Regions from separate parts of the Homo sapiens genome. Here region 2 is reported to be linked to region 1. The links are microRNA targets in miRTarBase. Many come from high-throughput screens and were not tested one by one. Region 1 holds a microRNA gene; the other region holds the end of a gene's coding sequence.

What was found. The annotated mature microRNA hsa-miR-5690 reads UCAGCUACUACCUCUAUUAGG and lies in region 1 at 2,263-2,283, opposite strand. An mRNA with a match to its seed (bases 2 to 7 or 8) in the 3' UTR can be bound and repressed. Matches are read on the target gene's strand: a 7mer-m8 pairs with bases 2 to 8, a 7mer-A1 pairs with bases 2 to 7 and ends in A, and an 8mer does both.
Region 2: the mRNA of ZBTB8B is a reported target of hsa-miR-5690. Seed matches in the 3' UTR shown: 7mer-m8 at 2,067-2,073.

What each region holds. Positions count from the first base shown.
Region 1 is chr6:35,662,498-35,665,728 of GRCh38, forward strand. MIR5690 (microRNA 5690) reads right to left here and starts at 2,292; the gene lies at 2,220-2,292. All of the region lies in intron 1 of FKBP5 (FKBP prolyl isomerase 5), which reads right to left. RefSeq lists enhancers at 199-700, 701-1,200.
Region 2 is chr1:32,485,230-32,488,319 of GRCh38, reverse strand. It overlaps ZBTB8B (zinc finger and BTB domain containing 8B), which reads right to left. Exons shown (of 4, transcript NM_001145720.2): 4 at 1-3,090. The coding sequence ends at 2,902. Among named protein-coding and RNA genes, the nearest start is that of ZBTB8B, 22 kb to the right of the region's middle.

The DNA of each region.
Region 1 (3,231 bases):
GTTCTTGAACTCCTGGGCTCAAGCGATCCTGCCACCTCAGCCTCCCAAAGTGCTGGGATTACAGATGTGAGCCATCACGCCTGGCTGTGTCCAAATATATTTCAACAAACTGCATCTCAAACTGGGTATACTAATATTTGGTGCCACTAGTAAGTATATATAAATATATAAGAGAACAAGGATTACCTAGCTATCATAATTACAGTAAATTTGTTTTGTTAATAGGAACTCATTTTAATTGTGCATTCATTTTTGCTGCTTTTGGCCCTTAGTTGTTTGAAAGCCAATAGTTTTCTAATTATACTATGAATCCTACACACCATGAATACCTACTGAATATGAAATGTCTGTAAGACCCTGTTCTAGGAGCTACAAAGAAAACTGAAATAAGTTAGCCCAAGGATTTTTTGTGAAGGCAAAGAAACATTTTAATTCCAAATAATTATTATTAGGTAGAAGAGAGCTACAAAGTGTTTCTGAGGGTCCCAAGGAGGCAGAAGATGGCAGTGTCTGAGCTGGATAGGCATACTTTCAACCGGCAAGGGTGTGGCAAGAGTAAAATCAAGGCTGGTAAAAGAACACAGCACGTTTCAAGCCTAAGCAGCTTAAGTGCAAAGTGGCTCCGGGTGGAAATGATGAGAGAGCAAGAGCACAAAGAGGACCCTCTAAAACAGAGCCAGTGACCATGTGAGCTGAGGGGGAGGGCTTCTCACAGGGCAAACGGTACAGAAAGACGCGAAGACACAAAGCATCATGACCCATCCAGGGAGCTGCATGTGATCCCACTTGGCTAAAGTGAAGGGTACATGTGGGAAAGAAGCAGATGATGCTAAATAAACAGGCAGAGGCCTGACTGTGAAGGACCTTGTGTGCCAAAGTAAAGTACGTGAACATTATTCCAAAGGCAACAGGGAACTGAGGCATTTTTAAGAAAAGAAATGACAAGCAGACTAGCTTTAAGAAAAAATTACTCTGGCACTCCAATGGTTTCCCATCTCACACAGGATAAAATCCAAAGTCCTTCTTATGCTTAATACCCTATACATGCTGATCACTCGCTATCTCTGAAATTATTTCTCCTTTTCCCTCACTCACTGCTCTGGCTACAGTGGCCTTCTTGCTGCCCCCTCCCATGTGCCCTTTCCTCAGTGCCTTTGCACTTGCTATCCCCACTACCTGGAACTCTTCCCTGGTTAGCTGCATAGCTCACTCCCTCACTCGCTTCAGGTCTGCCTTCATGTTCAAACCTTTTCTTATCAGAGTTGTTTTACTGTTACCGGAAATAAAAGAGCAAAAATCGACTATAATCAGCCCCACTATGTTTTCCTCCAGTGTATTTATAGTATTTGTATACTGCCTGTCTCTCCTTACTAGAATGTAAGCTCTATGATGGATCTCTTCAATAACCGTGTGACATTGAGATTGTTACTACTGACACGTCCAGACAGCAAATCTAATGGACGAGCTAAGTAATCTATCCAAGGATATACTTCTAGTGAACAGTGGAACCAGGGAGACTGACTCTGGAGCCTGCACTCTAACTATTTTACATACTGACTCCCCAGAAGTGTCACAGGTCTCTGACTCTGATTCTAAAGCATTTCCTGTGAACAGGCTCCATGCTGACAAGCACTAAGCCAGCAAAAATTCTGAATTCACAGTATGTTCTTCTAAAAAGATGGTGATTCTTACAATTTGTATTAGCCAAGTTTTAAAAGCCAGGGAATATTTTTTAAATAATCAATTAAAATGTACAAAGTATCTGGACTTTTACCTATCCAAAAATTAGCTGTTTTTTTTTTAGACCCACAGATATTCAAACAAGATGAAAGATTTTATGAACTAAAAGGAACACAGCATATGACACCAAAAACTACCCAAGACCCTTTTTCCGTTACCATATTCAATTTCAGGAATAAAACTCAACATCTTTAAAATAATCATCAAATTTTCTGACATGCCACTCCCGGAGGAAGAACAATGTGGTATCTACAGGAAAACATCCAGCAAATACAGTATCTCATGCACAGTAAAAGAATGAAAGGTAGGCTGCAGTAACATTTGTCTTTATTCTTTCCCCACTCCTGAAATTATTAAATTTCCTCTCTGCCTGGGCATTCTTTCATCCCATCTCCCATTACTATCAGTATCCTCTCCTTAAAATGCAGTTGTCAATCAACAGTTGTCCCCATCAACCACTTCATACCAGAACTCATCCACTCTTAATTTCAACTATTACCTCTATTAGTATAACTCCCAAATCCTAATAGAGGTAGTAGCTGAAATTAAAAGTGGCATAATTTCTCCCTCTTTCCTTCTCCAATCTTTGATTTCTCTCACTTCAGGACCCTTTTATTTCCTTATGTTTTTAAGGAAAATTAACTTTTTCAAAATTGGTCCCTTCTCCATTTATTTCATAATCTGTATTATCTGGCCATTCTCCTAGGTTTGCAACTTCAATATAATTTTTCTCCACTTAATCAATAGGACCGCCAACTATTCATTGTGTTTCTTATCTTACTTTCGACTCCATAGCTATCATCATATTTTGAGTTTTCTTCCTCTCCTTTGTGAATTACTACAGTTCTCCAGAGGACCTGCCTACCTCCAGACGGCTCACTCACTCCCACTCATTCTGTATACACTGCTAGTGAAGCCTTTCTGACACAGCACACCCACCACATTACTCTCTAATTCATGGACCTTAAATAGTGTTCCAACACAACAAATCTAAACTTCTCAAACCAGCACTCAGGGTCTTCTGCTCCTTTAGAATGTCACTAGTAAATGCTCCTCTTTTTTTTTTTTTTTAGAGGAGTCTCACTCTGTCACCAAGCTGGAGTGCAGTGGCGCGATCTCGGCTCACTGCAACCTCCGCCTCCCAGGTTCAAGCAATTCTCCTGCCTCAGCCTCCCGAGTAGCTGGGACTACAGGCGCGTGCCACCACACCCAGCTAATTTTTTTTGTATTTTTAGTAGAGATAGGGTTTCACTATGTTTGCCAGAATGGTCTCAATCTCTTGACTTCATGATCCGCCCGCCTCGGCCTCCCAAAGTGCTGGGATTATAGGCATGAGCCACCGTGCCTGGCCATAAATGTTTATCTTAAACATTCTAAAAAGATAAAAACCTAGAAACCCAACATTCTGATCTTCTTCATCTAAATCTGTACAATACACACTATGGGTCTGTAGAGGTCATAGTACACTATCTTCCACCTAACTTCAACAGA
Region 2 (3,090 bases), not on the chromosome of region 1:
TAAATCTTCTACACATCCATTTAGGTTTCCTTTTTGCTGAGATCCCTCTTTTAAAATAACAGCAAATATATGTATACATTTTTGGAGACAGTTTCGCTCTTGTTGCCCAGGCTGGAGTGCAGTGGTGTGATGTCGGCTCACAGCAACCTCCGCCTCCTGGGTTCAAGCGATTCTCCTGCTTCAGCCTCCTGAGTAGCTGGAATTACAGGCATGCGCCACCATGCCTGGCTAATTTTGTATTTTTAGTAGAGACGGGGTTTCTCCATGTTGGCCAGGCTGGTCTTGAACTCCCGACCTCAGGTGATCCACCTGCCTTGGCCTCCCAAAGTGTTGGGATTACAGGCGTGAGCCACTGCGCCTGGCCACAGCTAGTATTTTTATTTCAGATAAGACAAATATCTCTGGTCCCTGATAATTTTCAATGAGTAACTCTTGATCTAGAATATTTTTCTTTTATTTATTTATTTTATTATTATTTTTTTGAGACAAGGTCTCACACTGTTGCCCAGGCTGGAGTGGAGTGGCACGATTCCAGCTCACTGCAACCTTTTCCAGGCTCAAGTGTTCCTCTCGCCACAGCCTCCTGAGTAGCTGGGATTACAGGCACATGCCACCACTCCTGACTAATTTTTGTATTTTTGCTAGAGACGGGGTTTCGCCATGTTGGTCAGGCTGGTATCGAACTCCTGACCTCAAGTGTTCCATCTGCCTTGGCCTCCCAAAGTGCTGGGATTATAGGCGTGAGCCACCGCACACAGCCAAGAATGATATTTATCGAACTACCTGTGATAAGAGAAGTTTTAAATTTTCCATTCTACTGCAGACCAATACGTGGTCCTGCTGTACAGGCTGGTATCCAACCTCTGCACCATGTGGCCCTCTAGCTGACCAGAACTGAACTGGTCCATACCTCACTCAAGAAGACAAAGCCATGAGTCACAGCAATGTCAAAGTGTTATCAACATTTCTATATGTGTATTCTTAATTTCTGACTTTCCTTGTAGCAGACTGGTAGAAAACAGTTTACAGAACAGGGCCTCTCTGTGGGCCAGAGTTTGAGTTGCACTGTTCCAGTTTTAACTACTATTGAGAAGTACGACTTAAACACCTGTCTAATGCTTTGGCTAACATTTACAAGCCAATTTATAATGTTTTTGACTTTTTTGTTGTTCAAGAGGTAGAAATAAAAGTGACTTTTACCACCTTTTGAAAGACAACTACACTTAAAGGAAGACAAGAAGATTTCTTTTAAAATCCATTTTGGATATTTTAACATAAGACAAAATTATGGAAATTGCCTTCAATTACATTCCGAATTCCTAACACTGCCTGCCCTTTAGCCCTTTAAAGAGTTCAGCCTCTTTTGTTACAATAATTGTGTGGCTGGAAAGTGGGCGAAAGGTAGACTGCTTTTAAAAACCTGTTCTGCTACTAACCTTCCCTTTCCCTCATGAAGATCTTTTAAAAGATGAACATTTTAGAAATGTTACTTGGCATTATGGGCTTATACTTTCCCTCCAATTAAAGTTCTAGGCAAGGAGGTAGAAGGCAGGACTCAACTCCAAAGGCCGGACTCGGACATGGACCAAATTGAGGACTAGCTAAAACAGGGCGGTGGTGGGAGGGTGGTGCAGGAAGCAGATTTCCATAAGAAACACTTATCACTGTGCCATGTCAATTACCATTGCCATGGCAACACCTGGAAGTCACTGCCCCTTATCATGGCAACCACCCAGCGGCTTGGAAGTTACCACCATTTTCCTAAATATTGCTGCATAATCTGCCCCTTAATTTGCATGTAACTAAAAGTGGGTATAAATATAAGTGCCGACCTGCCTCTGAGCTACTACTCTGGGCACACTGCCTATGGTGTAGCCCTGCTCCACGAGGAGCGGCCCCTTAGCTGCTGTTGGGCACTGCTGCTTCAATACAAGCTGCTGTCTAACACCACTGGCTTGCCCTTGAATTCTTTCCTGGGTGAAGCCAAGAACTCCTCTGGGCTAAGCCCCAATTTTTGGGCTCACCTGCCCTACATCAGCATAAACTAAGTAAAAGAATGCCAGAGGCAGCTACATTTCCAAGTTACACAGCTCCAGCTTTTGGAAATTGCTGGAAAAAGTAGGGGAGCATTTTGAGTTTTGCCCAAATGAGTTGTTTTATGATAACAGAACAGGTTGTATGTGTAGAATCGTCAAATGCCAAACCAGACAGGGAAACCATCCAGACCTGGGGTCATAGCCTCCCTTCTCAGGGCTAACTTAAAATTTAATTCAACTGGGCAAGTCAGGATGCCATAATGAGCCTTTCAGATCATTCCCATGTTCGTCTGCCCATAAGTATTCCAAGCCTTTAAAATTGTTCTAGATTTAGGGAGTACCTTTTATGATCATGTAGCCAGACCGCCCTGCCTGCTTTATATCAATGAAGGTTTCTCTTTAATACTTTGCCAGAAAATTTAATGTGGAATTCATTAGGAAAGGCTTGGCAAAGGTAAACTTGATCCCAAAACTTAATGGTTTTTAGAGAAAGAGGATGATAACAAAGGAATGCAGAGGACTGAATCAATATAAAAACAAGCCTGGAGATTTTCTTATCTTTCTCCTAACCAGAGTTTGGACACACAGCAAGAAAAACAGGAGACCTCAGGGCCTGCTTTGACTCACTCAGAATTAAGGAGTGGCCAGCAAAGCCCTCAGAAACCAAGGGCACCACACAAAAAGGTTATCTGTCCTTTGAGTCACAAAATCCAACCTCTATCAGATAGTCTAATAAAAATGCACATATAATAACAGTGAAAAAATGTTCCTCTCAGGGTTCCACAAAATTGGACAAATGGTATCTTTCAACAACAGAACGAGCACTAACAAGTTTTAAAACCTCCTCTTCCCCACCAATTTATTGCTACGTAAGTGTCTCTCGGTCTGATAAGTTAGGCTGAATTTGTGGTTTGTCATCAGAATCATCTCCAGCAGGGTCATTTTCCTCACCCGACTCCACATAGATTGGCCAGTCATTGTCTGTGTCGCTCTTTTCTTGGCTTTCAGATGAAGCCTCCACCAAGCTAAGGTTGATGGGCATCAAATCATCATC